4 linked regions of the Homo sapiens genome follow. The protein of the gene in region 1 interacts with the protein of each later gene in a pairwise test. Each region holds a gene or a part of one and is shown on either strand. Other genes may lie near its edges. The genes, in order: COQ8A, MTIF3, LYNX1 and LYNX1-SLURP2.

Region 1 (7,794 bases):
TGTGCTAATAACATAAACAAGAGCTTGTTGAAAGCAGGCACTGAATCCCATACTGCTAATTTTTTCTTAAAAAAAAAAGCAAGCAACTAGGCACTGACATTCTCCCCCATGAATGAAACCAGTTTCACAGATGTTTTCATTTTGTGAGCAGCAGAACCAGCCCACCATGCCAATGATAACTACAGCTGCTTTTGCTGGGTTTAGTATATGCCAGGCTCTGGGCTCAGTGTTCTACTTAGCACAAAGATGTATTAACTCAATCATTTTCAAAAGGTAAATTATGCCCATTTTACAGATGAGGGTGCTAAGGCACAGAGTGGTTAAGTAATTTGCCCGAAGTCACACAGCTTTTAAGAAGTAAAGCTGGGACCTGGATCCATCATGGCTCAGGAGCTAGGCAACCTGTTTAACAGGTAAGAGGAGAAAAAGAGCAAAACAGTGTGTTTTTGATGTCCCAGGCTGCAAACCTCCATTCTCCATCCATTGGAAGATTAAGATATTCTTAGGATTCCCTGGGTGAGTTGCCCTGTGGTGAGCACTGGGTTGGGAGCTGGGCAGGGTTGGGGGTGATATAAAAGCAGCAGAAGGCAAAGTTCCAGCCTCTGATGATAGTCCAGAGAAGGACCCAACACTGTGAGCGAACCTGCATGGGCTCAGAGCTCCAACCACAGGCAGGCAACAGAGGGTCCCAAGCAGCCTCTCCCACTCTGTGAGTTGATATAGCCGATGACACACAAGGCTTTTAAAGGCCAACCAGCCAAGCGCAAGGTCCTGATGGCAATTTAGTTTTCTGACTAAAAACCTAGTGAAGTTTACTGCTTAAAACATTTAAATTAAAATATTTGGCTCAGGAAGTGATACTGGTGACATGGTTAAGATGCTCTGAGGTTAGGTGATCTGGGTTCACATCATGACTCTGCCACTGACTTGCTAGTGTGACCTAAATCAAGTCATGTGAGCTTATCTTTGTGCCTCAGTTTCCTCATCTGTTCTTGAAAGGACTGGATAAATCCATGTAACAGCATTCAGGACATATAGTAGGTGCTTAAAAACCATTAGCTAATGCCATTATTATTAGTAGTAGTATTGCAAGCACACAGACATTCTGGAATGAAGTTCAGACTTGGTGAGACCAACGGTTAGGGTGAATGGGATCAGTCTGGATAACCCGCAGTTGTTCCTGCCAGGCACAGTCTCATACCTGAGTTGGGAGGAAGGCTGGGCTGGGGAGGACCAGTGTGGTTTATTTAGTGCTGTGGTATGAGGCATCATTCAGGAGAGGCAGTCCAAAGTGCTGGCAGCCTGCTTCGAAACCAGGGACACAAATGTCCACTGGTATTCCTTACCACTTCACCTTAAAGGAGAAAACAGCATGGGAGGCTTTTGTCCAGGTACATTCAGGGAGAGGCAGTTGGGAAGAAAACCCCTCTAACTCCCACAAGCTCCCCAGCTCCGAGCCATGGAACACTCTCCTGCCAGATTCCTCTCCCTATAAAAAAACCCACGTTCATCATGCCAACGCGTTGCTCAAATGGCTCCTCTACCTGTAGACATGTATGTAGACATATATATAAAACCCAAACTCCTGCGCCTGAAGTCCCAGGCATCGAAATCAGGCCCCCGGCCTCCTTTCCAGCCTCCAGCTACGCGCGAGCCATGTGAGCGCACTCCACTCTGCAGGTCCTACTTTCTCAGGCAGGCCCGCTCGCCCCTTCATCTCTGTACGTCTGAAAACCCACCCATTAGCCAAGGGTGAGGGCCTTGGGGCCTTGGGGCTGGGAATCAGCTCTGCCCTGACCAGCTGGGCTGCTCCAGGCATATTCTCGAACCATCTCTGACCTGTTTCCTCTCCTCGAAATGATGGTATAAGTTATTATATTGTCCAATATAAATGGAGGGGTGGGTGGATATACTTTGAAATGTGTTAAAGCACCATATAAATTCAAGAACGTATTCCTATTCAGGCCCTTGATTCCCAGCTCTTCCATATTTACGTTCTCCTGACAGCTGATCTAACTTGCTGGTCAGATTCCTACATTGTAAGTTACTCTTCTTCTTGCACATGGACCTCTCTTCTCTTCAAACTATAAGCTCCTTGTGGGAGGCTCTTGTCTCAGACAACTCTGACTCTTCCCACTCCACCCACACACACAGAGTGATCCACCCACACAAATTACAAGCGCAAGCGTTGACTGAATTCACGAACCACTGCCACCCAGGAAGGTAATTAAGGATCCTAAAGTTGAGGTTGAAGGGTTTCTTTCAACGTTTCTTTCAGACGCTTACAGGGTTGTCTTTAAATCTGGCCAAAATACTGTGGGTGGCTGTGGTAGGCTGAATAATGGTGTCTCAAAGATACCCATACCACAATCCCCAGAACCTGTGAATGTTACCTGCAAATGGGACTTTGCAGATATGATGAAGTCAGGGATCCTGAGATGGGGGATTATCCAGGTGGGCCCAATGTAATCACAAGGGCCCATATAAGAGGGAGGCAGGCAGGGCAGAGTCAGAACGAGGTGATGGGAGACAGAAGTGAGGCTGGAGTGATGCCATTGTGAGGAAGAGGCCACAAGCCAAGGAATGCAGGCAGCCTCTAGGCTGGAAAAGGCAAGGGGTCGGGTCCTGCCCTTGAGCCTCCAGAAATGAACCAGCCCAGCTGATACCTTGATTCTAGCCTAGTGAGACCAATTTCAGACTTCTAACCTCCAGAACTGTAAGATCATACATTTATGATGCTTTGAGCCACAAACTTTGTGGTAATTTATCACAACAGCCATAGGAAATTAAAGCAGATCCTTGGGTTGGGGAGAGGGGCTGTATTCTAGAATAATTTCCAGACCATTCTTCTAAATTAACTTTGGTCACTCCACAAATACTACTGAATGCCAACCAAGTGCGAGGCACCAAGCTGGGTGGTAGACTACCCCACAGACAGCTCAGTGCATTCCTGTTCTTAATGACGGAGTCCTGTTGACTTTCTCTATATTGGGCCCATACTACATGCCAGGCAGATAGATATATATATATATATATTTTTTTGAGACAGGGTCTTACTGTTGCCTAGGTTGGAATTCAGTGGCATGATCACAGCTCACTGCAGCCTCAACCTCCCCAGGCACAGGTGATTATCCTGAGTAGCTAGGACTACAGGTGGGTACCACCACACCTGGCTAATTTGTTTGTATTTTTAGTAGAGACAGGGTTTCACCATGTTGCTCAGGCTGGTCTCGAACCCCCGACCTCAAGTGATCTGCCCACCTCGGCCTCCCAAAGTGCTGGGATTATAGGTGTGAGTCACCGTGCCTGGCCTCGGTTTTATATTCTTAATCTTTCAAAACACTTTTACTTCAGGTTTAATATCTCAATGAAATAGGAATAATAACAAGAACAGCTACCATTTATTATTCCCCTCTGTCTGCCTGTCACTTTATATTACCTCTAGTTCTTACAAAGACCTGGTGAGGTATTATCCCCACTCATTGATAGGATAATTAAAGCTCATCAAGGCTGAGCAATCTCCTAAGGGCCAAAGCTGTGGGATGCTGGACCCTTCCACACCTGTCTGACTCAGGCTCCAGTCCTTTCTTCTTACTGCCTAGGAAGCTGAGAGATAGCAGAGAAGAACACTGCCCCAAATCAATAACTCCTTTTTTGTTAAATCAATAGTCACTCAATATGAGACATCAGCAAGGTTTACATCCTGAAATGTGTCTTCCTGGTTACAGAAAATTGAGTCATAAAAATTCTGGGGCCAGCTGGGCTCTCAAAGGCCATCTGGCCAAACTCCCTGCTCTGGAAAGTTTGTCAGCTGCCAGGACTGAGGGTATCACAATTCTCAGCACCAGTGATCCTACCCACTAGAGGCAAAGCTTGGTTCCAGAGCCAGTTTGATCTTAAACATAAATAGTGGAAAGAGGCAGACGCCCTACACTGAAGACTGCCTCTGGGTGTGCAAGAGCTAGGAGGAGCCATCGGGCACACGGCCCTCAGTCTTGCCACACTCAACACCAGCACCAACCTTTATTAGCATCACCTCCAAATGCCACACACAGGCCAGGTGTGGACATGCACACATCACTGGTATGGAAGTTAAATAAACATGTTCTGCCCTGAGGTCACACACAACCCTTAGGCACTACATGTGTATGTAAAACCTCGATAGCTTTTAAAATCACCCAGTTAACCCAGACAAGGGGCAATCCTAGACAGACAACAACCACACACGCAACGAGAAATGAGAAGAGGCTCAGCAGGGTGCAAGGGGACCACAGACCCAGGAGAGGTGGCCATCTCCTTGCTGATCTCCACTCTCCCTGGTCTGGCCTGGCCAGCAAGGCCCTTCACTGTGGAGCCCCAGACACCTCTGCAGCGATACCTCTCGCTAGATGCCTCCGTGCCCCAACGCTTCAGCCAGAATGGACCCCCGGCCCCGCCCAACACCCACACAGGTTTTCCAGCTTCCACATCCTGCTCCCTCCTCCCCATGGAATATCATTTCCCCTGCTGGAATCTTGGCCACCCTGCTGGACTGGTAAACCCCTCCATAGGCAAGTCATCTCCTTTCCTCTAAACTCCCTCATCTCTTAATGGCCTAAGGTCACCTCGCCATGCCCTGTATGACTCTGTGTGTGCCTGTCCCATTTCCCTTACTGCAAGGTAAGCTCCGGAGGGAGGGGCCCTCTCTTTCCCAGTTCTGTACCCCCAACGGGGTCTGGCACTGTCCTCATACACACGAGTTTATTAGCATTATGAGTCAGTGAGGCAGGACCCAGGCACCCAGGCTCCGTGGCTTCCTGAGCTCCCTCATCGAGAGCCCAGGACTGAAGAGACCACCGAGGAGGCTGAGCACCAGGGGAACCTGAATCCCCAACATGCACAGCCACAGAAATGGCAGCAGCACCCTGTTCAAAAAGTGATTTTTACAGGAGCAAAAGCCAGATGAGTTTCCAAGCCAGCTTCATAATCCCGCTCATGGTGGGCACACAGACCCAGGGAGGGAGCAGGGGACGCAGTCACTGCTACTGCTTCCTCTGCGTCACCCCCGTCCCTGTCTAAGACTGAGGGAAAAGAGGAGGGGCTGAAGCCAGCAGGCAGCTGTTCCTCAGCAGGCCAATCAGCCCTGGCCCATGAACCGTGAGCACCAAGCAGGTGTAAACAGCAGCTACAACAGGCATCGCGGCAGCACAATGTCCAACCCTTGACCACATGCTGGCTGTAAACACCTTAGGGAGCAAGAGCCACAGGATTTTTTCAATCTCGGGAAGATTAGAGATGTTTGCTCAAGCACGTGTCAAACAGTAACCACCTTCAGCTTACCGGGCAATCGACTCTTACTTTTACCCTCCTCTGAGCCAGTATCAGTGCCAAACAAAAAATGTGCCAAGCACAGAACAAACACTGGGCTGGGGCCCAGGCTCTGAGCTTGAACTTTAACATTTCTTTTCATGTGGACTGTCCCCAGGACCCCTCATCCAGCCCCGTGAACAGCAGGGACTTGCCACCAGGTCCTCCAGTTCCCAGATGACACCGCATATATTGTGATGAGGGCCGACGGGGAGGACCAACAGCAAGGCCACCAAGCGCGGGTGACCTCAGGCACACCGCTTCTCCTCTTGGGGCCTGCGTTTTCTCATTTCCTCATGTGTAAGTGAGGCGACTGACCTGGAGGAGGTCTAGTTCCCAGAGATTAGGAAAGGGCCATGCATCCCTGGAGTGCAGAAAGTCAGCAAGGAGAGCACACACAGGGCTGTTCTGAAAGCTGGGATGTAACGGGGTCTAGAAAGAGTAATGCTCAAAACAACGCAGATACTGATCCTTCTAGAGATTCTATGAAATAGTGAGAGGTAAGAGGCAGACCAACCCTGCTGTCTTCAGAAAGGCAGAGAGGGGCGCTACAGCCTCTCTGTCTCTCAGGAAACACACCTCTGGGAAATGGAAAATTCCAGTGGACGGTGCAGAGGTAGGGAGAGATAAGGGACTGGGCTTTTCCAAATGACCCGGAAACACCTACCTTCCTGCCTCCCTTCTACACATACACACACACTCTCTCTCTCTCACTCTCTCTCTCTCACTCTCTCTCTCTCACTCTCTCTCTCTCTCTCTCTCTCTCTCTCTCTCTCTCTCTCTCTCTCTCTCTCTCTCAGGGTACAACTCCTCAAAGGATGCTGAGGCACCTAAGGCTCTTCAAGCCCCCACCCCTGGCCCTCTCACATTAAACAGAAGGCCTCGACCCCTCTTTAGCGGACCTTTGTTACTCCAGAAATGGGGGCAACCAGATAGGAGGGCCCGCACATTCTTGGCCACATCTCTCAGACCCTTCCCCTGCCTCTGTCCAATCTCCTCCCACACTGACCATCCCTCCTCCTTCCCGCAACAAGACCTTGCCCCTGACCTATTTTTTTCTTTTGCCTTCAATCATAAAAGCCCTCCCCTGAAGCCCACAAGCCCACTCTCTGCTCTCCTGTACCAAACATTTAAATAAACCTCCCATAGGCTCTGCTTCTCCTCCACCCTCTGGACATGGCTACCATCTCCCAAGGATGGAGTGCACTTGCCATCTTCCCTGCTCCCTCGGCACACACTTTCTGGCCCCAACCCCAAGCTGCCCCTCTGTGACACCTGAGGGCTCAAGCCAGTGGGTCTCCTCAGCCACCCCCTGCCCCACAGTGTTCCCTGCTGGCCCCACACTCTTCCCAGAAGCCCTCCCTCCTCCCTCCTCTCTGGCCTCACCTCCTCAGCTTCCTCCCCCAGCTCCTCTTTCTCCACCTACTCCAAGGCCTGGGAGTTCCCAGGCTGGTCCTCGACACCCCTGCCTCCCTGCCATCTGCACTGGCTCCTGGGGTGCCAGAGCCCCTCCACAGGCTCTGCACTGATGCCTCCCCACACTCAGGCCAGGCAGGACCTCTCAACAACCGAACCCATTTCCAGAACAAACCAAGTTACACACACACATACCGCATCACCACTTCAAAGACCCACAGGCAACTGGAAAGGGGTGCAGGGAAATTTCGGAGGGTGATGAAATTGTTCTATAGCTTGATTGTGGTAGGGGTTATGTGACTATGTGCGTTTGTCAAACTGCGCAGAACTGCACACTAAGAAGGATGAATTTACCGTATGCAAATTATATCAAACAGGATGGAAAGAAGTCCCATAGGCTCCCATCATGTCTAAAACTAAGATGACCACCTTCTCCCAAACCAGCTCTTCCTCCATCAACCAGCTCCTCCCCCTGATTAGAAATCTCAGCCATATATCCAGTCAGGTAGTCAGTCTAGAAATTCCACCTGCATAAATTTCTTTGAATCCATGCCTTCAGTTCTATCTCCCCTTGGGGACTCGGGCCATCCTCACTTCTCACAAACCACCTCCGTGGGGCTCCCACCCCTCCATATGTGCAACTCCAGAAAGAGCAGGACCCTCGAACTCACTCACTCCCACCAGCTCTCCTTTCCACTGGCTCTCCCGAGTTCCTGGCTGTTGCTTAACAGGAATGACAGAAGTATCTCCAGATGCCACTGTCAAATCAAGACAACTCTCTGTCTAAATATTCCTGTCTAATTTTGCACACAGCTCTTGTTTCAACGGACAAAGATAATGACTCAGTGTCCATGGTTCTTACTGGAAAATTATCCTGCCAAGTTTTGAGCTTCCCAATAATAGCCTTCTTTAAAATTCTCTTTGAGAAAGGAGAAGTGACCTTCCTTCCTGATCCTTTTCTACAGGCAACAAAGGGCACCCAAAAGATCCCCTAACTGACCAAGGAGTGTTACAGGAAAATCCTGATACATC
Region 2 (6,216 bases), on another chromosome or scaffold:
CTGCTTATGTTATTCATAAGGCTTTCAGTCAACAGTAAGCTATTAGTAAGTTTTTGAGGAGTCAAAGTTATACACAGATTTTCAACTGCACAGGGGGTCTGTTTCCCTAACTCCCAAGTTGTTCAGGGGTCAACTAAGTAGTCAAATGAGATCATGTGTACAGAAAAAAAAAAAAAGTGAAACCAAAATGCTATGTAAATCTGGTTTATTCTAATAGCCACTTGTCTTGGGGACAGTATCACCATGAGTTAGTCTGGCCAGAGTCACCTGCTAGTCCGCTTTATCAGTGTAGACTTCCTGTGTGTGGATCTGAAAGTCTAGAGAACAGCATTTCCCTCACACTTGCAGTTACAGCCTCCACAACCTCACACACACCCTGCCATGTACCACAATGTCAGACCAAGGGAATAAGTGATTGAATTTTAATGAACTCTTCTTACTACTTTCTTAGGATGGCTGCTCTTTTTCTAAAGAGGTTAACACTACAAACTGTAAAGTCTGAAAATAGTTGCATTAGATGTTTTGGTAAACACATCCTGCAAAAGACAGCACCAGCACAGTTGTCCCCTATTGCTTCTGCCCCAAGACTCTCCTTCCTAATTCATGCAAAAGCCTTTAGTACCGCTGAAGACACCCAGAATGAAGGAAAAAAGACAAAAAAGAATAAAACAGCTTTTAGTAACGTTGGAAGAAAAATTAGTCAGCGAGTTATTCACTTATTTGATGAGAAGGGCAATGATTTGGGAAACATGCACCGAGCAAATGTGATTAGACTTATGGATGAGCGAGACCTGCGACTGGTTCAAAGGAACACCAGCACAGAACCTGCAGAGTATCAGCTCATGACAGGATTGCAGATCCTCCAGGAGCGGCAGAGGCTGAGGGAGATGGAGAAGGCGAACCCCAAAACTGGTAGGTATTTTGCTGTTGGCTCCCTGAATCCTTTAAGAGCTACAAATCAGCAGTTTAAATTCTAGCATTTGTCAAGGTGCCTGTGACAAGAGGGAAATGAGAAACTAGAAAATTCATGATTCAACCACCATTCCCAGTGTCTGTCTTTCCTCCTTTATCCTGCACTTACTCCTGTTCCCTTTTTTTCACTGTTTTTCCACAATACCCTGCCCATTATCTCTTCCCTTTAAACCTGTGTAAAATGTGGGAGAAACCAGGCAAACAAACCAAAGTGAAGAGAACTCTTTCCCCTGTCCTGTGGCCTTCTCCCAATGCCGCAGCAAGCTGAGTAGCCGATGGGGTGAAACAGAGTGAGATTAGGAGGGGTACATTCAAGTTCCCTGCCCTCTGCCGGGCCACTCATTTAACCTCCCTCCTTTTGTTTTTCTTCCCCTTCTTCAACTCTAAAGTGGAGGTGTTTGGTTAATTATCTGGAAGCACCTTTTTATTTTTTTGAGATGAGTCTCTGCCTGCCGCCCAGGCTGGAGTGCAGTGGTGCGATGTGTGCTCACTGCAACCTTCGCCTCCCAGGCTCAAGCGATTCTCCTGCCTTAGCCTCCCCAGTGGCTGGGATTACAGGCGCCCGCCACCACGCCCGGCTAATTTTTGTATTTTTAATAGAGAGGGGGTTTCACCATGTTGGCCAGGCTGGTCTTGAACTCCTGGCCTTAAGTGATCTGCCCTCCTCGGCCTCCCAAAGTGCTGGGATTACAGGCGTGATCCACTGCGCCTAGCCTGGAAGCACCTTTTCGACTCTGAAGTGATTCACAGAGCATCTCCCATGCCAAAGCATTGTGTTGCAATATCAGTAGCAACACTCTTAGATATACAACCAGTCACTTGACGAGGCACTTGTCATTTAAGCCTCACAGAAGTCAGGAATTGGATATTAAGCAAAGATGTTTGTTTTTCATAGTTCCTAAAAAGTGCCAATCATTATGAAAGTTCAATGGATGGCGCACGGGGACAGGCATCAGATGACTGCTCCCAGCACTGCATCGTGAGGTTGTGTGCCTTCAGAAAACCACATGTTATCTGCGGCTCAGTTTTGTAATGCCACATTTAACAAGGATGTTGACTGGAAAACAATATTCAGAAGAGACCAACCAGGGAGGATAATGACGTCAAACTATGTCACTTAAAAAAAAAAAGGTCACTGGGCGTGGTGGCTCACGTCTGTAATCCCAGCACTTTGGGAGGCCAAGGCAGGTGGATGGCTTGAGCTCAGGAATTCAATACCAGCCTGGGCAATATAGCAAAACCCCATCTCTACAAAAAATTTTAAAATTAGCAAGGTGTAGTGGTGCAAACCTGTGATCCCAGCTACTTGGGAGGCTGAGGTGGGAGGATCACTTGAGCCTAGGAGGCAAAGGCTGCAGTGAAGAACCATGATCATGCCACTGCACTTCAGCCTGGGTGACAGAGCGAGACCCTGTGTTTAAAAAAAAAAAAAAAAAAAAAAAAAACAGTCTTGCTCTGTTGCCCAGGCTGGAGTGCTGTGGTGTGATTTCGGCTCACTGCAGCCTCCATCTCCTGGGATCCAGCAATCCTCCCACCTCTGCCTCCCACACAGCTGGGACCACAGGTGCACACCACCATGCCTGGCCTTTTTTTTTTTTTTTTTTTTTTGTAGAGATGGGGTCTCGCTATGTTGCTCAGGTCTTGAACTCCTGAGCTCCAACGATCTGCCTGCTTCAGCCTCCCAAAGTGCTGGGATTATAGGCGTGAGCCAGCACACCTGGCCCCCAATCTTTATGATGAACCCTGGTGCATACTCTAGGGTCTATGAACCTAAATGGATCAAACTGCTCAGCAGCAGTGTATGCAGTTTCTCTACCTCCTCCCTCATTTGTCATTTTAATGGTGAGAAATTAATGTGTATTTCACTTTTTTCTTCTGTGAATTGCGTGTTTATATTCCTTTATTTTTCTACGTAGATGGTTTTTCTCCGATTTATAGGGTTCTCTGTTGTGTATGATGGAAAAAACCGTATCCCAGTTAGATTTTTCATTTTGCCTTTTTTTCTTAATGAGTTCCATCCCCTATCCTGAGATCACAAACCATTCTGTCTTTTCTTCTGTTTGTTTTAAAGTTGTATTTTTCACCTGTAGAACATTAGTATACCTGGGGAGACCTAACTTTTTGTCATCTATAAACTTCTCAATTGTCCCAACACCTTTATTGAGTGGCCGGTTCCTTCTCTATAATTTTCCAGTAGGCAGGATTTCTGGAGACAGAGGGCATGAACACAGGATGTAGGGACCCTTACCTGTCCAACAGTCTGGCTGACCCCTTATAGCAAGGAGAGCATCTCAAAAGGAGTGGGTAGTGCACTCCCAGATGCCAACCCACAGCTGATAGATAAGGATGTTAAGTGCACCATGAAGCCAAACTTGATCCTTTAAACGACTATCTTTTGGTGTTCTTTCAACAAACGATGGTTAACAATAAATGGAAGCATTTCAGATTTTAAGTACCCTTCCAGGGCAGGTAAAAAATTGGTACCTTTATGTGTATCTTCCCCATTTGAAAAGACATTTACTGGTCTGTGAAACTGAAAGCCAGATGAGAAGATTGTCAGGTGGCAACCTAGGATTTTATGATGGGCATGTTGGGAAGTTCAGGGTTCACAGTGGACTAGTCAGTAGTCCTTGCACCCTATCTGTTTCAAACCAGGACCAACCCTGAGAAAGGAACTGATTTTGTCTTCAAATATTGGACAACATGATTTGGACACAAAGACTAAACAGATTCAGCAGTGGATTAAGAAAAAACACCTAGTCCAGATTACCATAAAGAAAGGAAAAAATGTAGACGTGTCAGAAAATGAAATGGTAAGTAAAGAAGGTACAAGCCACTGCTTGTGCTTTGGGTCTTCTGATCTAAAAATACAATTGTAGGCCAGGCGCGGTGGCTCACGCCTGTAATCCCAGCATTTTGGGAGGCCAAGGTGGGCGGATCACGAGATCAGGAGATTGAGACCAACCTGGCTAACATGGTGAAACCCCGTCTCTACTAAAAATACAAAAAATTAGCCAGGCGTGGTGGCGGGCACCTGTAGTCCCAGCTACTGGGGAAGCTGAGGCAGGAGAATGGCGTGAACCCGGGAGGCGGAGCTTGCAGTGAGCCGAGATCGCGCCACTGCACTCCAGCCTGGGTGACAGAGCAAGACTCCGTCTCAAAAAAAAAAAAAAAAAAAAAAAATTGTAGAAAATCTGAAATATAAAGACAAAGTGACTGGTAATTCTTCCACCCAGTGATGTTAACAGCTTTCTAGTTTGCTTTTCAAAACTAAGCATACTGTAGATATAGTTTCCATTACAGCGTATTTTGCCATATGAACACATTATTCCTTAAAAGCAATATACTATTGTTTTATAAATTGTAGAATAACCCTTAAACAGGAAAATTAGAAACTTTATAGATTTTTTGTTTCTTCTTTGTACTTATAGGGGCATTAATTACGTAGACTGTCTTCTAGAAAGTGTGTAGTTTCCAATCCCATAAGTTTATGGAATACCTATTTTGCTTTTTTTTTTTAAAAGTTAGATAACTTTATCATCCACTAAGGGTATCCTTAGTAATCCAGCTCCACAGTAGAGTCACTTAAGCATAGGTCGCAACCCAGCTGATGCAGAATTTCTTGAGCCCAGGTATCCATTTGTTTCAGTCACTGAGAGAGACTCTGTTAGGGGCAATAGAGAGTGCTGAGAACTGCTCGGCTGACACCTTGGGGATGAGGAGGTATTTTGCCAATGCCCAAACCCAGTGCTTTCTGTTTGTGGGAGAGGGTAATGCTGAGCCAAACGTAGCCTCTTCGTGCCATGACGAAGTGGAGATTTAAAATTAGGAAGCATTCAGCATGTCAGTTTAGTTACATGGTGTTATTGTACAGATTTCAGTCAACTTAACCAGATACGTATGAACTGATTAGCTAATCACTTAACCGACAGCAGCAATTCAAGGGTGCCAGTTTTTGTGAATGTTCAAGCAGAACATTAGAAAGCACCAAAGCCTCTGATTTTAAATTAATCTTTGGCTGTTTCCCTTTTTTAGGAGGAGATATTTCATCAAATACTCCAGACTATGCCTGGAATAGCTACATTCTCATCTAGGCCACAAGCTGTTCAAGGAGGAAAAGCTTTAATGTGTGTTCTTCGTGCTTTCAGCAAAAATGAGGAGAAGGCATATAAAGAAACTCAAGAGACCCAGGAAAGAGACACTTTGAACAAAGACCATGGAAATGATAAGGAATCAAATGTTCTGCATCAGTAATTTTAATAAAGAAAAGCATGCTCTGAGAGAAAGCTCGCTCCTTGGTCTGCAGTCCTTTAAACAAAGCAGTGCAGTTCTTAGCCAAGGGTAAGTACTGCAACTGTCGAGAGCATCTTGTCTTCCACACAGTTGGGTGACTCTCCGTTTTGACACAAAGATAAGCCTTGCCCTTGTTTCCTTTTGGGAGGGATATATCCACTGAGATGAGAGGCCAAACTCCGTTTTTCACGAGATTTTTTGACCTTTGGGAATAAGGAAGACACACGATTAGAATTCAAAATCAAAACTGTCTGAGTTAATTTTACGATAGTCATATGTACCAGCAGATATAGTGTACAACATTGCTTTATGAGGAAGTAAAGTCTTCAACAGTAGTGCAGACTCAAACAGTAAAGCAGGTGAAAAGAATTCCAAACAGACTCCTTCTGGCCTTAAACAATTTCCACTTGAAAACTAAGCTTGCCTAAGTAGTTTCAACTTACTTTGAGCTTCATTTTCTTCTTGTCAGGATCATGTACAACAGCATGCCTAGTGAGACTTTGCTACAATGAAAGAGAAAGTTATTAATGAAATATTAATATGAAAACCATGTTGTGAAAGCATAGACTATAGGACCATGAGTATGAGGGTGAGTGCTTACTTTCATTGCAAATGTTTTGCCACAGCCAGCATGTTCACACACAAAAGGGCGGCTTTCCTCATGGAAGGAGAGGATATGGCTTTGGAGATTAAACACAGTTGTATAGGTTCTTCCACAGCCTTCTCTTGGACAGCGACATACATCCCTTTCTGGGGCATGAGTTTTCATGTGTTGCTTAAGGTAATCTTTGCGTTTAAATGTTTTCCGGCATACTTCACATAGTATTTCCTCTGGTGGGACAGACAGACAAATTTCACAAATTTCCCCAGATATTACCATTTAGAAAAAATTAATACCTAATATATAAGTAACATTCAGTGCCTGAAACCTGATCACTATATACAAATCAG
Region 3 (8,457 bases), on another chromosome or scaffold:
AGCTCTGGGCCCAGTATGATGCCCATCTTCCCTCTGGGGAGTCACGTTCCTCCCGCTCCGGGCCCGTTCCCACCCAAGGTCCCTTTGCAGAAGACTGGCACTGTCCTCCTCCAGCGGGAACTGGGTGTGCCCTCAGCAAGACTCTGCCCCCTCCCATCCTCATGTTCTCAGGAGACTGAAGCTGGGCACTCAGAACCAGCCCCAGGAGCAGAACGCAGGCCTGCATATAGACTCACTGCAAGGAGACCCCTGGGGTGGAGACCCTCATTCCCTGATCCCCCAGGGGTCCTGCATCAAAGCTCTGGAGATGCAATTTCCAGCAGGGGCTCCCCTGACCAGGGCCATACTTTGGGGCCGGGACAATCCTACCACATGGATATGTCACCATCCTGCCCATGCGGGATGGCTTGAAGGGTTTCTCAGGACACCAGAGCTGGGAGCACTGGTCAGGTGGGGGCCTCAGGTGCAGCGTGACCGCTGGCACCAAAAGGTCTCACGCCCCCGAATGCCCCATTCACAGCAGGGGCAGGTGCTCCCTGGGCTACCTGCATCGGGGATGGATTGGTGCGTGTTGGGCTGACCCCTGCTTCCCAGGCCTGGGGTGGGGTCCCTGGGAGTCCACACACCCAGCTGGGGCTTCCACCCTGCCCTCCCAGTGGGTGCATCCCCAGGTGGAAGGTGATGGAGGGACCCACTCACTGTGCGCATCCCGCTGCGGGGGAGGGGCTGGGTCTCCGCCCTCCCCACCCCACCCTCCCCACTCCCGCCCCCGCACGGCCACGAGAGGGTGGCATGCTCCGCCTTCCCACGCCCAGGCCCGCGCCGGCCCCAGGCTGCTCCCAACCCCCAGCCTGTGCGCGCATCCCCCAGTCCTGCGTCTTTTGCCTTGCTCGGCTGGGTCCTGCTGTGGTTGGGGACCAGGACTCGGGGGACCACCTGCTCTGCCCCTTTCCCTCCCTGCCCAGAATAGCGCTGGCCGGGTCAGCGTCCAGGACCCACCAAATATAGCATGGCCCTAGCTCCTGCCAGCTTCAGGCCTGGTGCCCTCCCCGTGAGGGGGTGGGAAACGTCAAGGGGTTTGACTGAGAGGACACACACCCCTTGCTGGACCCGAAAAAGCTTCTGTGACTTCGGGGGCCCTGGGGCCTGCTGAGGCAGAGCCGCCCCCTCCCCTGCAGGGGGTGGCTCCAACTCGGGCCTGGCAGACTTCCTAGCACAGGGGCCGGTGCCAAAGGCCCTCCTCCCACAGCCCTGATCCCGTACCGGTCCTGGCAGCTCCTGGCCTCAGTAGGAAGCGTGACTAGGCCTGGAGGAGCCTTTCCTCCTAAGAGTCTCCCCACCACCCCACCTGCGGGCATTCCTTGTCTTCCCCCTGCCCCAGCACACCAGGGGCAGACTGAGGCAGGGGCCTCTCCTAGGGCTTCCCAGAAGGTGGGCTTGGCCACAGCTCCCATCTGCTCAGTGCTCCCTGCCTGACTGGGCCCCTCCCCATAAATAGCCCTGGACAGGCGAGGGGCTGATCAGCCCATCAAAGCCGGACACTTTTGGGATCCCACACAGCATCGAAAGGTCAAGGCCTCGAAGTGAGGTCGTGTGGTGGTTGGGGGAGGTCGGGTGTCTTCTTGCCCACAGTCCTGACCCTGGGCATGGCTGAGGAGGTCGCAGGGAGTGTGGAGGGTGAGGCAGGGTGAGCTGGGTGCGAGGGTGTAGCAGTGTGTCTCGAGAGCTTTGTTCTTGAGTGGGTCTGCCTCGGGGGCTTTAGAGGAGACCCCAGAGGGTGGCCAGGAGGATGGGGGCCAGGGCCAGGGTGGCCGGGGTGGCAAGGCCGGTGCCGTTGCAGAGGTCGTACTGGCAGCAGGAGGTGGTGGACGCGTGCTTGGAGTAGCCATCATACACAGTCTCGAAGCAGCGGGGCACGCAGGACTTACTGACCTTCATCCTGGTGGGGGTGTAGTCTGCAGAGGGGCGGGGCGGTGAGCCAGCTCCGCTAAGAGGGGCAGGAGACCCAGCTGGCCCCACCCCAGCATCCACAGCCATCAGGGCAGGGCCCCTCAGCCTGGAGCTCCCAGACAGGATCCGGGAACAGGAGAGCCTCCTTCCTCAGGACCCCCGCATGCTCAGGGGCAGGGCAGAACCTCCCCTTCGTGCTCCCCAGGCAGGGCCACGCAGGGCCCCCAGACTCACAGGTGCGCGTGGTCATGCAGTAGGCAACCATAGCCGGGCAGCGCATGGGGTTGAAGCAGTTGTCTCCGTTGTAGGCACACACGTGGCAGTCCAAGGCCTGGGCTGGGGTTGGCAGATGGGCGGGAAGGGAACGGGGGTCACAGAACATGAGAGGCCCCTCCTCCAGCCCATCAGGCCCCCAGCCCGTCACCTTCCCCGGGGCAGGGGGCTAGAAGGAGGGGTTGTCGCTGGGAATTCTAGCCTCCTTCCCTACTGTCAGCCCATCTGCCCTCAAAGTGGGTCTGCCCATCCCTCTGTCCTTTGTCCATCTTACCCAGAGGTAAGCCCATGAGGACCACCAGGATCAGGGTGAGCAGGGGCGTCATGGCTGCAGGCAGGAGGGCAGCGTGGGAGTGGGGAGGTCAACAGCAGCTAGCCCTGGATCCAACTCAGGGGTGGCGCACAGAGGATCCAACTCAGGGTGGTGCGCAGAGGACGTGGGGCCGGCCCTGCCTCCCGGAGCTCCTGGTCTACTGGGAGTGCTGCAACCCTGCACAGCAGGTGGCAAAGACAGGTGGTCAGTACTGGGCCTGAAGGACCCATGGGGGCCTGGGCAGGGATGATGGTGGGCAGAGGGGCCACCTAACTCAGTGGGTGTCAGGGAAGGTTTCCTGGAGGAGGAGACACTTGGGATGGGACAAGAAGGGAGAAGAGATCAGGACATTTCAATCAGAGACCAGCACCTGCAAAAGCTCAAAACAGCCTGTAGCGCTGGATGGAGGAGAGATGGGGGGAGGATGAGGGGCAGTGCTAGAGAAGGAGTAGGGATGGGCAGAGGGGCCTTAAATACCAGGCCTAAACAAGGATTTTACCCAGGGGATGGTTGGTGCAGAGGTCCCATGGGAGGTGGTCTGCAGCCCCATCCCAAGCAGGGCCCTGGGGGCCGGATGGCTGGCCATGGCAGGACTGGGCCCAAAAGCTGGGTCTCTTCTCGCTGTTCCCCTCCTCTCTGCTCCTGGGGTGTCCCTACTTGGGGTTCCTTCTTCCAGAAGACCTCCAGAGCCCTGGTTAGGGTTGTCTGAGTCCTCGGCCACTGCAGAAGCTCCCCAGCAGGGATGAGCTGTGCCCAGCTTGGGGGGAATGCATTTTGAGCCCCTCCCAGGAGGGCACTTGGGCCAGACAAGAAGAAGCATTTCCCCGGCTGGGTCTGGTGTTTGGAACGGGAATGCCCTCTCTGGAAAGAGGTTTACAGTGGGGAGGTGGGGGTTGGATTACGGCTCTCCTACCCCTGCCGGGATACTCGGCCCTCGGTCTCCGTCCTGGAGGACTAAATTAAACTTACGCCTTCCCGAGAACAACAAATCCGTCTCTCACGACACATTTGCCCAGGCCAACCCCAGGATGCCAAAGGCCAGAGTCAGGCCTGCGGCTTCGAGCTTCCCAACCCCCTCACGGAGAGCCCCGCCCCAAACACTGCGGTCCCAGGTCGAGGGGAGGGCTCTCGGCGCGAGCGGGACTATCAGGGTGACCTCACCTGTGACCTTCACCACCGTGAGGTACCGCCGCGCCTGGGAGTCACCCGCGGCCGCTCGCCGGTAGGTGCCTGCCTGAGTCTAATCGTAGGCGTGTCTGTGTGTCCCGCAGCACCCGTGCCGCATCGCCTGATGCTCACCGCAGGCCCAGCCCAGTCCCGCCCCCGGAACAGCCCGCCCAGCGCGAGCTCACCGCAGGCCCCGCCCCAGGCCTGCCCCGGCCCCACCTCCTGAGCAACCCCCCGAGCCGAGCTCACCGCAGGCCCCGCCCCGGACCCGCCTCCTGGGCTACTCACCAAGCCGCGCTCACTGCAGGCCCCGCCCCTGCCCCGCCTCCTGGGCACCCGCCGAGCCGAGTTCACCGCAGGCCCCGCCCCGGACCCGCCTCCTGGGCACCCGCCGAGCCGAGTTCACCGCAGGCCCCGCCCCGGACCCGCCTCCTGGGCACCCGCCGAGCCGAGTTCACCGCAGGCCCCGCCCCGGACCCGCCTCCTGGGCACCCGCCGAGCCGAGTTCACCGCAGGCCTCGGCCCGGACCCGTCCCCGGACCGCCGGCTCGCCGGGCAAGCGCTGGGACCCCGAGGCCAGTCCAGGCATCTGGATCTCCGACACAGAGGCAGCCACGCAGTGATTCCCTGGCGACCCTCAGACTCACGTGTTCAGCCCGGACACTCCGCAGGCTATCTTCACCGCGTCCCGCGGCAGCCCAGCCTTCCCCGCAGCCGCCTCCGCCCACTCGCCCGCGCCGCGTCGTTTGTCGGCCGGCACCAGCCTTGCGGCCCCAGCTCCGCCCTCCTGCAGCCCAGGCCCAGCAGCTCCGGAACTGGCGCCCTTTGGCGCACCCGCCTCGCTGCCCATGGCCTCCGCCTGCCTCCCCTGCGCTCAGCTCCCGCTTCTGGTCCCTGTAGCAAAGCTGGAAGGCAGGCCTGCAAGGCAGCCCCTTGCTCCGTGGTCCCTCTCACCATCATAATGTTCATATTAAATAATTATCTTTACATAACTTTGAATACTTATGTTATTGGTTCTGTTTTTGGCAAAATGTAATAAAATTTCATGGGTCCGAAAGTTTTCATTTTTTCCAATGTGAGAAAGAAAAATAAAACCTTTTCTTCTACCCTAAAGCTCATTTTTTTCTTTAAAACATTTTTGCGGGCCTGAGGTACAGAATACACCATGCCTGCTGGGCAAGCGGGCTCCGGTTCCAGGAAATCCTTCGGTCCCCAGCAAACTAGGCCAGTTAGTTGTTCTGTTTGCCGAGAGGTAATGCGCACCCTCCTGTGCCAGGTCCTAGTTGGGGAGAAGGCAAAGAATAAAACCAGCAGACGTTCCAGAATATTCCCACCCCATGGAGCTCACACTCTGGTGGGATAAGGGGCGTGGAAGGAACGCATAGGTCAGAACCAGAGTATGTCGCGGTCTTCAGCCTCAGACCACGATGAATTAATACGGATGAAACTTCCCTTGCCCGCCCGCCAGCGCTCGCCTCCTGCTGTGTGGCGTGGTTCCTAACCGGTCTGTGACCCAGGGGTTGGGGACCTTTATGTTAAAGGAAGTTCTTCAGGCAGAAATACGGATCTACACAAAGGAATAAATGACACCAGAAATAGGAAATAGAAGGTAATTTTTTTCTTATTTTTGAATCAAGTTAAAAGATAGTTGATTACCTAAAGCAAAAATAATAACAATGTATTAAGGAATTTATAGCAAATGTAGAAGTAAATTGTATGATAATAGTAGTGCAGGCTGGGCACCGCGGCTCACGCCTGTAATCCCAGCACTTTGGGAGGCTGAGGCGAGTGGATCGCTTGAGCCCAGGAGTTCAAGACCAGGCTTGGCTGGGCAACGTAGAGAGACCTCATCTCTAAAAAAAAAAAAATACCAAAAAATTAGCTGGGTGTGGTGGTGCACACCTGAGGTTGCACCCAGGAGGCTGAGGTGGGAGAATCACTTGAACCCAGGAGGTGGAGGTTGCAGTGAGCTGTGATCACGCTACTGCACTGAAGCCTGGGTGATAGAGCAAGACGCTGTGTCAAATAAATTTAAAAAAAAATAGTAATACAAATAGACCAGGAGAGGGACAATGGAAGTTCACTGTTGTAGATTTATTCTACTCTATGTGAAGTGGCCTACTATTTCTTGGAGGTAGACTAGTAAGTCAAAGGTGTATGCTAAGACGCTAAAGTGTCACTAAAAAAAGACAAAGAAAAAAGCAAAAGTCAAAGCACTGTAGTTAATAAATCAACAAAAGTGATGATACAGAATTATTTATTTATAAAAGCACATGTTACAGAGACTGCAGAAGAGGAGAAAGGAAAAAACAATGAGACAAATAGAAAACAAATAGCAAGATGACATATATTTAAACCCAGCCACAGCAATAATGACACTATGTCATCTAAACACTTCAATCAGGCTGAGCACGGTGGCTCACACCTGTAATCCTAACCTGTAATCCCAACACTTTGAAAGGCTGAGGAAGGTGGATCACTTGAAGTCAGGAGTTCCAGACCAGCCTGGCCAACATGGTGAAACTCCCTCTCTACTAAAAAATACAAAAATTAGCTGGGCATGGCGGTGGGTGCCTGTAATCCCAGCTACTTGGGAGGCTGAGGCAGGAGAATTGCTTGAACCTGGGAGGCAGAGGTTGCAGTAAGCTGAGATGGTGCCACTGCACTCCAGCCTGAGCGACAGAGTGAGTGAGACTCTGCCTCAAAAACAAACAAAAACATCTCAATTAAAAACAGAGGTTGTCAGATTGGATAAAAATAGAAACAGCCAAGTATATGCTGTCAGTGGGAAACTCACCAGACATGTAAAAACACAAATAAGATAAAAGTAAAAAGATGGAGAGAGATATACTATGCTAACACCAATTAAAAGAACACAGACATGACTACGTCAATATCAAAGTAGGTTTAAAGCAAAGACTATAATCAGAAATAAAGAGGAGCATTACTGGCCAGGTGTAGTGGCTCTCATCTGCAATCCCAGCACTTTGGGAGGCTGAGGTGGGAGGATTGCTTGAGGCCAGGAGTTTGAGACCAGCCAGGGCAAAACAGCAAAACACTATCTGTACTAGAAAGAAAGAAAAAAAATTTAAAAAGAGGGACATTACCAAATGATAAATTGATCAGTTCATGAAGAGGACTCAGCAGTTCTAAATATGTATGCACCTAACAATTAAGCTTCAAAATACACAAAGCAAAACAAACAACATCTGATAGAACTGAAAGGAGAAAAAGAAAATCCACAATAACAGAGATTTCAACACTCCTCTTTCGAGAACTGATAAAAAATAGACAAAAAGTCTGTAAGGATGAAGACGTGGATCACATTACCAGTCAACATGACCAACTTGATGTTTGTAGGACACTCCACCTCACAGAAGGGGAACACACCTTTATTTACCAATAATGTCCTCCAAGGCAGACTGTATTCTGGGCCATAGAACAAATCTCAGTAAATTTATACGGATTAAAATCATGCAGATTATTTGCTTGGACTACAATGGAGCTAAATTAGAAATCAATAACAGAAATATATCTAAAAGATCATCAAATATTTAGAAACTGAGTAATAACATATTTCTAAACAACTTATAGGTCAAAGGAGAAACCAAAAAGGAAATCAGAAAATATTTCCAACTGAATGAAAATGCAAACACAATTCATCAAAGTCAAAGGATGCAGCTGAAGTGGGCCCTGGAGGGAAATTTTGCACTAATGCTTCTTTTAGAAAAAAAAGAGCTAAAACTTCTTTTGGAAGAGAAAGAAGTTCTCCAAAAAAAACCACCTAAACTTTCACCCTCGGAAACCAGAACAAAAAGAGCAAATCAAACCCAAGGTAAGCAAAATGAAGAAAATAGCAAAAATAAAAGCAAAAAAAAAAAAAAAAAAAAGTGAGGTAGAAAAAGAAGATAGAGAAAAATCAATGAGAGCAATGTTTGAGAATGCCCCTCCAGGAGGAGGACCTCAACAACCCTCCCCAGTCCGGCTTGTCCATGGCAGGACCAGAGAAAGGACCTCTTGCAAACCAAAGCTAGCTGCCTCTGAGTTGGGGGCTGGCCAGTGGAGTGGGCGGCTGGGGCTGCCCCTCCAGCCCTCCGTGGGATCTGGCTGTCGAGACTGGGCGTTAAGGGAGGCTCTTGGGCCCCCCTGATCTGACTGAATAATGCTCCTTTCTTTCTCCCACCTGGCCTTTCAGCCAAGATGCTGTCAGGCGTCATCAGCCCCACACAGGGCCTGCAACCTTGTAGGTGGGGACAGCGCAGCTGGCCAGAGGGGGCCGGGTGGGAGCTCAGGCCCGACTGGACGGTGAGGAGAGCAGAAGTTCCGAGCAGGTGGAGGGAGGATCCCTTTTCAGAGGACCTGGTCAGTTGCTTTTGCACAGTCTCCCTGACAGCTGCCCTCTGTCTGGACATTGTGCTTTGACTGCTTTTAGCATTTCCATTTTTAAGGCATAGAGAAAATTGCATCCGGTGATGGGCCAGGAGAGTCAGCCATGCACCCCATGACAGGGACAGTGCCCCACCCCTGGGTGCTGGCCAAACCTCAGTGGCTGTGCCTTGGGGCCCCACCACTCAATCCTATGCCTAAGCATCTCCCTGCAAGTTCTGAGCTTGGGCTCTGGCAGAGGGAGCTCCTCCTTCAGGGGCACTCAGGACATGGGGGCAGGGCTGTCGGCCCCCTCTGGCCAGCTGCGCTGTCCACACCTACAAGGTTGCAGGCCCTGTGTGGGACTGAAGATGCCTGACAGAGTCTTG
Region 4 (8,583 bases), on another chromosome or scaffold:
CTCCCTGCCTGACTGGGCCCCTCCCCATAAATAGCCCTGGACAGGCGAGGGGCTGATCAGCCCATCAAAGCCGGACACTTTTGGGATCCCACACAGCATCGAAAGGTCAAGGCCTCGAAGTGAGGTCGTGTGGTGGTTGGGGGAGGTCGGGTGTCTTCTTGCCCACAGTCCTGACCCTGGGCATGGCTGAGGAGGTCGCAGGGAGTGTGGAGGGTGAGGCAGGGTGAGCTGGGTGCGAGGGTGTAGCAGTGTGTCTCGAGAGCTTTGTTCTTGAGTGGGTCTGCCTCGGGGGCTTTAGAGGAGACCCCAGAGGGTGGCCAGGAGGATGGGGGCCAGGGCCAGGGTGGCCGGGGTGGCAAGGCCGGTGCCGTTGCAGAGGTCGTACTGGCAGCAGGAGGTGGTGGACGCGTGCTTGGAGTAGCCATCATACACAGTCTCGAAGCAGCGGGGCACGCAGGACTTACTGACCTTCATCCTGGTGGGGGTGTAGTCTGCAGAGGGGCGGGGCGGTGAGCCAGCTCCGCTAAGAGGGGCAGGAGACCCAGCTGGCCCCACCCCAGCATCCACAGCCATCAGGGCAGGGCCCCTCAGCCTGGAGCTCCCAGACAGGATCCGGGAACAGGAGAGCCTCCTTCCTCAGGACCCCCGCATGCTCAGGGGCAGGGCAGAACCTCCCCTTCGTGCTCCCCAGGCAGGGCCACGCAGGGCCCCCAGACTCACAGGTGCGCGTGGTCATGCAGTAGGCAACCATAGCCGGGCAGCGCATGGGGTTGAAGCAGTTGTCTCCGTTGTAGGCACACACGTGGCAGTCCAAGGCCTGGGCTGGGGTTGGCAGATGGGCGGGAAGGGAACGGGGGTCACAGAACATGAGAGGCCCCTCCTCCAGCCCATCAGGCCCCCAGCCCGTCACCTTCCCCGGGGCAGGGGGCTAGAAGGAGGGGTTGTCGCTGGGAATTCTAGCCTCCTTCCCTACTGTCAGCCCATCTGCCCTCAAAGTGGGTCTGCCCATCCCTCTGTCCTTTGTCCATCTTACCCAGAGGTAAGCCCATGAGGACCACCAGGATCAGGGTGAGCAGGGGCGTCATGGCTGCAGGCAGGAGGGCAGCGTGGGAGTGGGGAGGTCAACAGCAGCTAGCCCTGGATCCAACTCAGGGGTGGCGCACAGAGGATCCAACTCAGGGTGGTGCGCAGAGGACGTGGGGCCGGCCCTGCCTCCCGGAGCTCCTGGTCTACTGGGAGTGCTGCAACCCTGCACAGCAGGTGGCAAAGACAGGTGGTCAGTACTGGGCCTGAAGGACCCATGGGGGCCTGGGCAGGGATGATGGTGGGCAGAGGGGCCACCTAACTCAGTGGGTGTCAGGGAAGGTTTCCTGGAGGAGGAGACACTTGGGATGGGACAAGAAGGGAGAAGAGATCAGGACATTTCAATCAGAGACCAGCACCTGCAAAAGCTCAAAACAGCCTGTAGCGCTGGATGGAGGAGAGATGGGGGGAGGATGAGGGGCAGTGCTAGAGAAGGAGTAGGGATGGGCAGAGGGGCCTTAAATACCAGGCCTAAACAAGGATTTTACCCAGGGGATGGTTGGTGCAGAGGTCCCATGGGAGGTGGTCTGCAGCCCCATCCCAAGCAGGGCCCTGGGGGCCGGATGGCTGGCCATGGCAGGACTGGGCCCAAAAGCTGGGTCTCTTCTCGCTGTTCCCCTCCTCTCTGCTCCTGGGGTGTCCCTACTTGGGGTTCCTTCTTCCAGAAGACCTCCAGAGCCCTGGTTAGGGTTGTCTGAGTCCTCGGCCACTGCAGAAGCTCCCCAGCAGGGATGAGCTGTGCCCAGCTTGGGGGGAATGCATTTTGAGCCCCTCCCAGGAGGGCACTTGGGCCAGACAAGAAGAAGCATTTCCCCGGCTGGGTCTGGTGTTTGGAACGGGAATGCCCTCTCTGGAAAGAGGTTTACAGTGGGGAGGTGGGGGTTGGATTACGGCTCTCCTACCCCTGCCGGGATACTCGGCCCTCGGTCTCCGTCCTGGAGGACTAAATTAAACTTACGCCTTCCCGAGAACAACAAATCCGTCTCTCACGACACATTTGCCCAGGCCAACCCCAGGATGCCAAAGGCCAGAGTCAGGCCTGCGGCTTCGAGCTTCCCAACCCCCTCACGGAGAGCCCCGCCCCAAACACTGCGGTCCCAGGTCGAGGGGAGGGCTCTCGGCGCGAGCGGGACTATCAGGGTGACCTCACCTGTGACCTTCACCACCGTGAGGTACCGCCGCGCCTGGGAGTCACCCGCGGCCGCTCGCCGGTAGGTGCCTGCCTGAGTCTAATCGTAGGCGTGTCTGTGTGTCCCGCAGCACCCGTGCCGCATCGCCTGATGCTCACCGCAGGCCCAGCCCAGTCCCGCCCCCGGAACAGCCCGCCCAGCGCGAGCTCACCGCAGGCCCCGCCCCAGGCCTGCCCCGGCCCCACCTCCTGAGCAACCCCCCGAGCCGAGCTCACCGCAGGCCCCGCCCCGGACCCGCCTCCTGGGCTACTCACCAAGCCGCGCTCACTGCAGGCCCCGCCCCTGCCCCGCCTCCTGGGCACCCGCCGAGCCGAGTTCACCGCAGGCCCCGCCCCGGACCCGCCTCCTGGGCACCCGCCGAGCCGAGTTCACCGCAGGCCCCGCCCCGGACCCGCCTCCTGGGCACCCGCCGAGCCGAGTTCACCGCAGGCCCCGCCCCGGACCCGCCTCCTGGGCACCCGCCGAGCCGAGTTCACCGCAGGCCTCGGCCCGGACCCGTCCCCGGACCGCCGGCTCGCCGGGCAAGCGCTGGGACCCCGAGGCCAGTCCAGGCATCTGGATCTCCGACACAGAGGCAGCCACGCAGTGATTCCCTGGCGACCCTCAGACTCACGTGTTCAGCCCGGACACTCCGCAGGCTATCTTCACCGCGTCCCGCGGCAGCCCAGCCTTCCCCGCAGCCGCCTCCGCCCACTCGCCCGCGCCGCGTCGTTTGTCGGCCGGCACCAGCCTTGCGGCCCCAGCTCCGCCCTCCTGCAGCCCAGGCCCAGCAGCTCCGGAACTGGCGCCCTTTGGCGCACCCGCCTCGCTGCCCATGGCCTCCGCCTGCCTCCCCTGCGCTCAGCTCCCGCTTCTGGTCCCTGTAGCAAAGCTGGAAGGCAGGCCTGCAAGGCAGCCCCTTGCTCCGTGGTCCCTCTCACCATCATAATGTTCATATTAAATAATTATCTTTACATAACTTTGAATACTTATGTTATTGGTTCTGTTTTTGGCAAAATGTAATAAAATTTCATGGGTCCGAAAGTTTTCATTTTTTCCAATGTGAGAAAGAAAAATAAAACCTTTTCTTCTACCCTAAAGCTCATTTTTTTCTTTAAAACATTTTTGCGGGCCTGAGGTACAGAATACACCATGCCTGCTGGGCAAGCGGGCTCCGGTTCCAGGAAATCCTTCGGTCCCCAGCAAACTAGGCCAGTTAGTTGTTCTGTTTGCCGAGAGGTAATGCGCACCCTCCTGTGCCAGGTCCTAGTTGGGGAGAAGGCAAAGAATAAAACCAGCAGACGTTCCAGAATATTCCCACCCCATGGAGCTCACACTCTGGTGGGATAAGGGGCGTGGAAGGAACGCATAGGTCAGAACCAGAGTATGTCGCGGTCTTCAGCCTCAGACCACGATGAATTAATACGGATGAAACTTCCCTTGCCCGCCCGCCAGCGCTCGCCTCCTGCTGTGTGGCGTGGTTCCTAACCGGTCTGTGACCCAGGGGTTGGGGACCTTTATGTTAAAGGAAGTTCTTCAGGCAGAAATACGGATCTACACAAAGGAATAAATGACACCAGAAATAGGAAATAGAAGGTAATTTTTTTCTTATTTTTGAATCAAGTTAAAAGATAGTTGATTACCTAAAGCAAAAATAATAACAATGTATTAAGGAATTTATAGCAAATGTAGAAGTAAATTGTATGATAATAGTAGTGCAGGCTGGGCACCGCGGCTCACGCCTGTAATCCCAGCACTTTGGGAGGCTGAGGCGAGTGGATCGCTTGAGCCCAGGAGTTCAAGACCAGGCTTGGCTGGGCAACGTAGAGAGACCTCATCTCTAAAAAAAAAAAAATACCAAAAAATTAGCTGGGTGTGGTGGTGCACACCTGAGGTTGCACCCAGGAGGCTGAGGTGGGAGAATCACTTGAACCCAGGAGGTGGAGGTTGCAGTGAGCTGTGATCACGCTACTGCACTGAAGCCTGGGTGATAGAGCAAGACGCTGTGTCAAATAAATTTAAAAAAAAATAGTAATACAAATAGACCAGGAGAGGGACAATGGAAGTTCACTGTTGTAGATTTATTCTACTCTATGTGAAGTGGCCTACTATTTCTTGGAGGTAGACTAGTAAGTCAAAGGTGTATGCTAAGACGCTAAAGTGTCACTAAAAAAAGACAAAGAAAAAAGCAAAAGTCAAAGCACTGTAGTTAATAAATCAACAAAAGTGATGATACAGAATTATTTATTTATAAAAGCACATGTTACAGAGACTGCAGAAGAGGAGAAAGGAAAAAACAATGAGACAAATAGAAAACAAATAGCAAGATGACATATATTTAAACCCAGCCACAGCAATAATGACACTATGTCATCTAAACACTTCAATCAGGCTGAGCACGGTGGCTCACACCTGTAATCCTAACCTGTAATCCCAACACTTTGAAAGGCTGAGGAAGGTGGATCACTTGAAGTCAGGAGTTCCAGACCAGCCTGGCCAACATGGTGAAACTCCCTCTCTACTAAAAAATACAAAAATTAGCTGGGCATGGCGGTGGGTGCCTGTAATCCCAGCTACTTGGGAGGCTGAGGCAGGAGAATTGCTTGAACCTGGGAGGCAGAGGTTGCAGTAAGCTGAGATGGTGCCACTGCACTCCAGCCTGAGCGACAGAGTGAGTGAGACTCTGCCTCAAAAACAAACAAAAACATCTCAATTAAAAACAGAGGTTGTCAGATTGGATAAAAATAGAAACAGCCAAGTATATGCTGTCAGTGGGAAACTCACCAGACATGTAAAAACACAAATAAGATAAAAGTAAAAAGATGGAGAGAGATATACTATGCTAACACCAATTAAAAGAACACAGACATGACTACGTCAATATCAAAGTAGGTTTAAAGCAAAGACTATAATCAGAAATAAAGAGGAGCATTACTGGCCAGGTGTAGTGGCTCTCATCTGCAATCCCAGCACTTTGGGAGGCTGAGGTGGGAGGATTGCTTGAGGCCAGGAGTTTGAGACCAGCCAGGGCAAAACAGCAAAACACTATCTGTACTAGAAAGAAAGAAAAAAAATTTAAAAAGAGGGACATTACCAAATGATAAATTGATCAGTTCATGAAGAGGACTCAGCAGTTCTAAATATGTATGCACCTAACAATTAAGCTTCAAAATACACAAAGCAAAACAAACAACATCTGATAGAACTGAAAGGAGAAAAAGAAAATCCACAATAACAGAGATTTCAACACTCCTCTTTCGAGAACTGATAAAAAATAGACAAAAAGTCTGTAAGGATGAAGACGTGGATCACATTACCAGTCAACATGACCAACTTGATGTTTGTAGGACACTCCACCTCACAGAAGGGGAACACACCTTTATTTACCAATAATGTCCTCCAAGGCAGACTGTATTCTGGGCCATAGAACAAATCTCAGTAAATTTATACGGATTAAAATCATGCAGATTATTTGCTTGGACTACAATGGAGCTAAATTAGAAATCAATAACAGAAATATATCTAAAAGATCATCAAATATTTAGAAACTGAGTAATAACATATTTCTAAACAACTTATAGGTCAAAGGAGAAACCAAAAAGGAAATCAGAAAATATTTCCAACTGAATGAAAATGCAAACACAATTCATCAAAGTCAAAGGATGCAGCTGAAGTGGGCCCTGGAGGGAAATTTTGCACTAATGCTTCTTTTAGAAAAAAAAGAGCTAAAACTTCTTTTGGAAGAGAAAGAAGTTCTCCAAAAAAAACCACCTAAACTTTCACCCTCGGAAACCAGAACAAAAAGAGCAAATCAAACCCAAGGTAAGCAAAATGAAGAAAATAGCAAAAATAAAAGCAAAAAAAAAAAAAAAAAAAAGTGAGGTAGAAAAAGAAGATAGAGAAAAATCAATGAGAGCAATGTTTGAGAATGCCCCTCCAGGAGGAGGACCTCAACAACCCTCCCCAGTCCGGCTTGTCCATGGCAGGACCAGAGAAAGGACCTCTTGCAAACCAAAGCTAGCTGCCTCTGAGTTGGGGGCTGGCCAGTGGAGTGGGCGGCTGGGGCTGCCCCTCCAGCCCTCCGTGGGATCTGGCTGTCGAGACTGGGCGTTAAGGGAGGCTCTTGGGCCCCCCTGATCTGACTGAATAATGCTCCTTTCTTTCTCCCACCTGGCCTTTCAGCCAAGATGCTGTCAGGCGTCATCAGCCCCACACAGGGCCTGCAACCTTGTAGGTGGGGACAGCGCAGCTGGCCAGAGGGGGCCGGGTGGGAGCTCAGGCCCGACTGGACGGTGAGGAGAGCAGAAGTTCCGAGCAGGTGGAGGGAGGATCCCTTTTCAGAGGACCTGGTCAGTTGCTTTTGCACAGTCTCCCTGACAGCTGCCCTCTGTCTGGACATTGTGCTTTGACTGCTTTTAGCATTTCCATTTTTAAGGCATAGAGAAAATTGCATCCGGTGATGGGCCAGGAGAGTCAGCCATGCACCCCATGACAGGGACAGTGCCCCACCCCTGGGTGCTGGCCAAACCTCAGTGGCTGTGCCTTGGGGCCCCACCACTCAATCCTATGCCTAAGCATCTCCCTGCAAGTTCTGAGCTTGGGCTCTGGCAGAGGGAGCTCCTCCTTCAGGGGCACTCAGGACATGGGGGCAGGGCTGTCGGCCCCCTCTGGCCAGCTGCGCTGTCCACACCTACAAGGTTGCAGGCCCTGTGTGGGACTGAAGATGCCTGACAGAGTCTTGGCTGGGGCTGGGGCTGGGGTCAGGTTGTGTCCAGGACAGTTGAGGAGCTGTCCAGCAGGGTCACAGAGAAGCAGCCTGGAGGCTGGGAGACTGAGCTAGGGACCCCTGGAGGCACAGGGCAGAGGGCAGTGATGGGCTATGAGCTGTGACTGTCCTTGGGCTTGGTCTGGAGTCCTGCCAGCTCCCAGGCCCCATTGCAGCCACATGGGCAGCCTAGCCCTCTCTGGATCCTGCAGGTTCGCTCCCACTCCTGGGCCTTTGCCCAGGGCCCGCACGCAGCCTCATCCATGCTGCCTTCGTTGTCCCTGTACCTGCTGCTGCTTTGCAGTCTTCCCTGACCCACCAGCAGAACTCCCTCTTCCTTCATTCCTGGAGTTTGGTGGCCACAGCCCCCGTTTCCTGCCTTTCAGGGGTGGGAGTGGTAGGGGAGGTGGCATTCCCGCCTGCCTCCAGGCTGCACTGGACACAGAGCACTCCCGTTCCCTGGGCCCTGGATGAGGATTCCTGCAGCCAGCCTGCCGTGAAGTGGCAGGAGTCACTTTCCCTTGCCCAGCCTTAGTTTCCCCATACGGAAGTGGGGATGGGTGGGCCTGCGGCCTAGGCACTCCTACCCCTCTGCTCTCTGCCCGACTCCCATGCCCAGGTGCCTTCGCACACCCTGCCCTGGGCGCTTGGCAGGCCTCAGGCCACCTGTCCAGAGTGGAGTGGAAAAGGGCACAGATGGGGCCATGAGCGGCACTGGCCTGGGCGAAGGCGGATTTTCCCTGTGCAGGAGCCCCGGCACCCGGCTCTCCGGTGGCCACCAGAGGGCGCTCATACTCAGACCTCCAGGAGCACTCGCAGGCCCCTCCCACATGCCAGCACTCAGGGGAGAAGGGGCGCCCTCACCCCTTCACCCTGGGTCATGTCCCTGAGACTGGGGTTCAAGAGCCTCCAGAGAGGCCGGCTTGGAACACCCCAGGCCCAACCCCAGCCTCGGAGCCATGTGGACACTGACTACCCACAGCCACCACCCAGGGCAAGTCCAGCTGCCTGGGCCCATCCCCATCCATGGGAACCCAGCAGCCCCTTGGCCAGACCTCACCAGGGTGAAGCTGGACTGGAGGGGGCGGGGAGCATGACGCAGGGAATATGGGCCAGGTGAGGTCGCCCAGAGGCAGGGAGGGTTCCGCACCCACTGCGTGGGTTCTGGTATTTCGGGGATGAGGCTGTGACGTGGAGTGAGATGAGGCCCCCGGCAGATGCCCCAGCAAGGGGCCCTTCCCCTTCTGGAGAGGGCCAGAGGCTCCTGCAGGCTGACCCCACGCCCCCGGCATGGGAAGTCTCAGGCCTCACCTGGGTCAGAGCAGAGCTCTGCCTTCCCCCAGGGCAGCTCCCTCACAGGTCTGGCCTGGAAAACTTATGGTGACCGAGCCCCCTCCGGCCCCGGCCAGCAGACAGTGGTGTAGCATGGGTGGCAGCTGGTGAGGGGTCAGTGGTGCTCCCTGGCCCTGGGTCCAGGCACTCAGCTCTTTGTCCCACGCACCATGAGACCAGCAGCATTACCACCCCCAGTTCCAGCCAAGGGCAGGAGCACTAGGTGGGGTCTGA

Evidence for each region.
Region 2: the proteins of COQ8A (region 1) and MTIF3 interact in binary tests that used the Homo sapiens proteins (3 or more experiments, as listed by UniProt).
Region 3: the proteins of COQ8A (region 1) and LYNX1 interact in binary tests that used the Homo sapiens proteins (3 or more experiments, as listed by UniProt).
Region 4: the proteins of COQ8A (region 1) and LYNX1-SLURP2 interact in binary tests that used the Homo sapiens proteins (3 or more experiments, as listed by UniProt).

Annotation. Positions count from the first base shown.
Region 1 is NC_000001.11:226,943,043-226,950,836, reverse strand, and holds part of COQ8A (atypical kinase COQ8A, mitochondrial), read right to left. Parts: intron 7,523-7,794; exon of another isoform or gene 7,434-7,522; intron 1,355-7,433; exon of another isoform or gene 1,202-1,354; intron 1-1,201. UniProt on the Homo sapiens protein: Atypical kinase involved in the biosynthesis of coenzyme Q, also named ubiquinone, an essential lipid-soluble electron transporter for aerobic cellular respiration.
Region 2 is NC_000013.11:27,434,685-27,440,900, reverse strand, and holds the end of MTIF3 (translation initiation factor IF-3, mitochondrial), read left to right. Parts: intron 1-451; 5' UTR 452-452; coding exon 453-912; intron 913-3,627; coding exon 3,628-3,785; intron 3,786-5,007; coding exon 5,008-5,226; 3' UTR 5,227-5,258; downstream 5,259-6,216. Other genes in the region: GTF3A (transcription factor IIIA), read right to left, coding at 5,304-5,468, 5,709-5,768, 5,867-6,096. UniProt on the Homo sapiens protein: IF-3 binds to the 28S ribosomal subunit and shifts the equilibrium between 55S ribosomes and their 39S and 28S subunits in favor of the free subunits, thus enhancing the availability of 28S subunits on which protein synthesis initiation begins.
Region 3 is NC_000008.11:142,773,409-142,781,865, forward strand, and holds the start of LYNX1 (ly-6/neurotoxin-like protein 1 precursor), read right to left. Parts: upstream 3,795-8,457; 5' UTR 3,698-3,794; intron 3,615-3,697; exon of another isoform or gene 3,506-3,614; intron 3,124-3,505; exon of another isoform or gene 3,036-3,123; intron 2,714-3,035; 5' UTR 2,550-2,713; coding exon 2,498-2,549; intron 2,287-2,497; coding exon 2,185-2,286; intron 1,956-2,184; coding exon 1,759-1,955; 3' UTR 1-1,758. Other genes in the region: LYNX1-SLURP2 protein precursor, read right to left, coding at 2,185-2,286, 2,498-2,549. UniProt on the Homo sapiens protein: Acts in different tissues through interaction to nicotinic acetylcholine receptors (nAChRs).
Region 4 is NC_000008.11:142,774,873-142,783,455, forward strand, and holds the start of LYNX1-SLURP2 (LYNX1-SLURP2 protein precursor), read right to left. Parts: upstream 3,001-8,583; 5' UTR 2,887-3,000; intron 2,331-2,886; exon of another isoform or gene 2,234-2,330; intron 2,151-2,233; exon of another isoform or gene 2,042-2,150; intron 1,660-2,041; exon of another isoform or gene 1,572-1,659; intron 1,250-1,571; 5' UTR 1,086-1,249; coding exon 1,034-1,085; intron 823-1,033; coding exon 721-822; intron 492-720; coding exon of another isoform or gene 295-491; exon of another isoform or gene 1-294. Other genes in the region: LYNX1 (ly-6/neurotoxin-like protein 1 precursor), read right to left, coding at 295-491, 721-822, 1,034-1,085. UniProt on the Homo sapiens protein: Acts in different tissues through interaction to nicotinic acetylcholine receptors (nAChRs).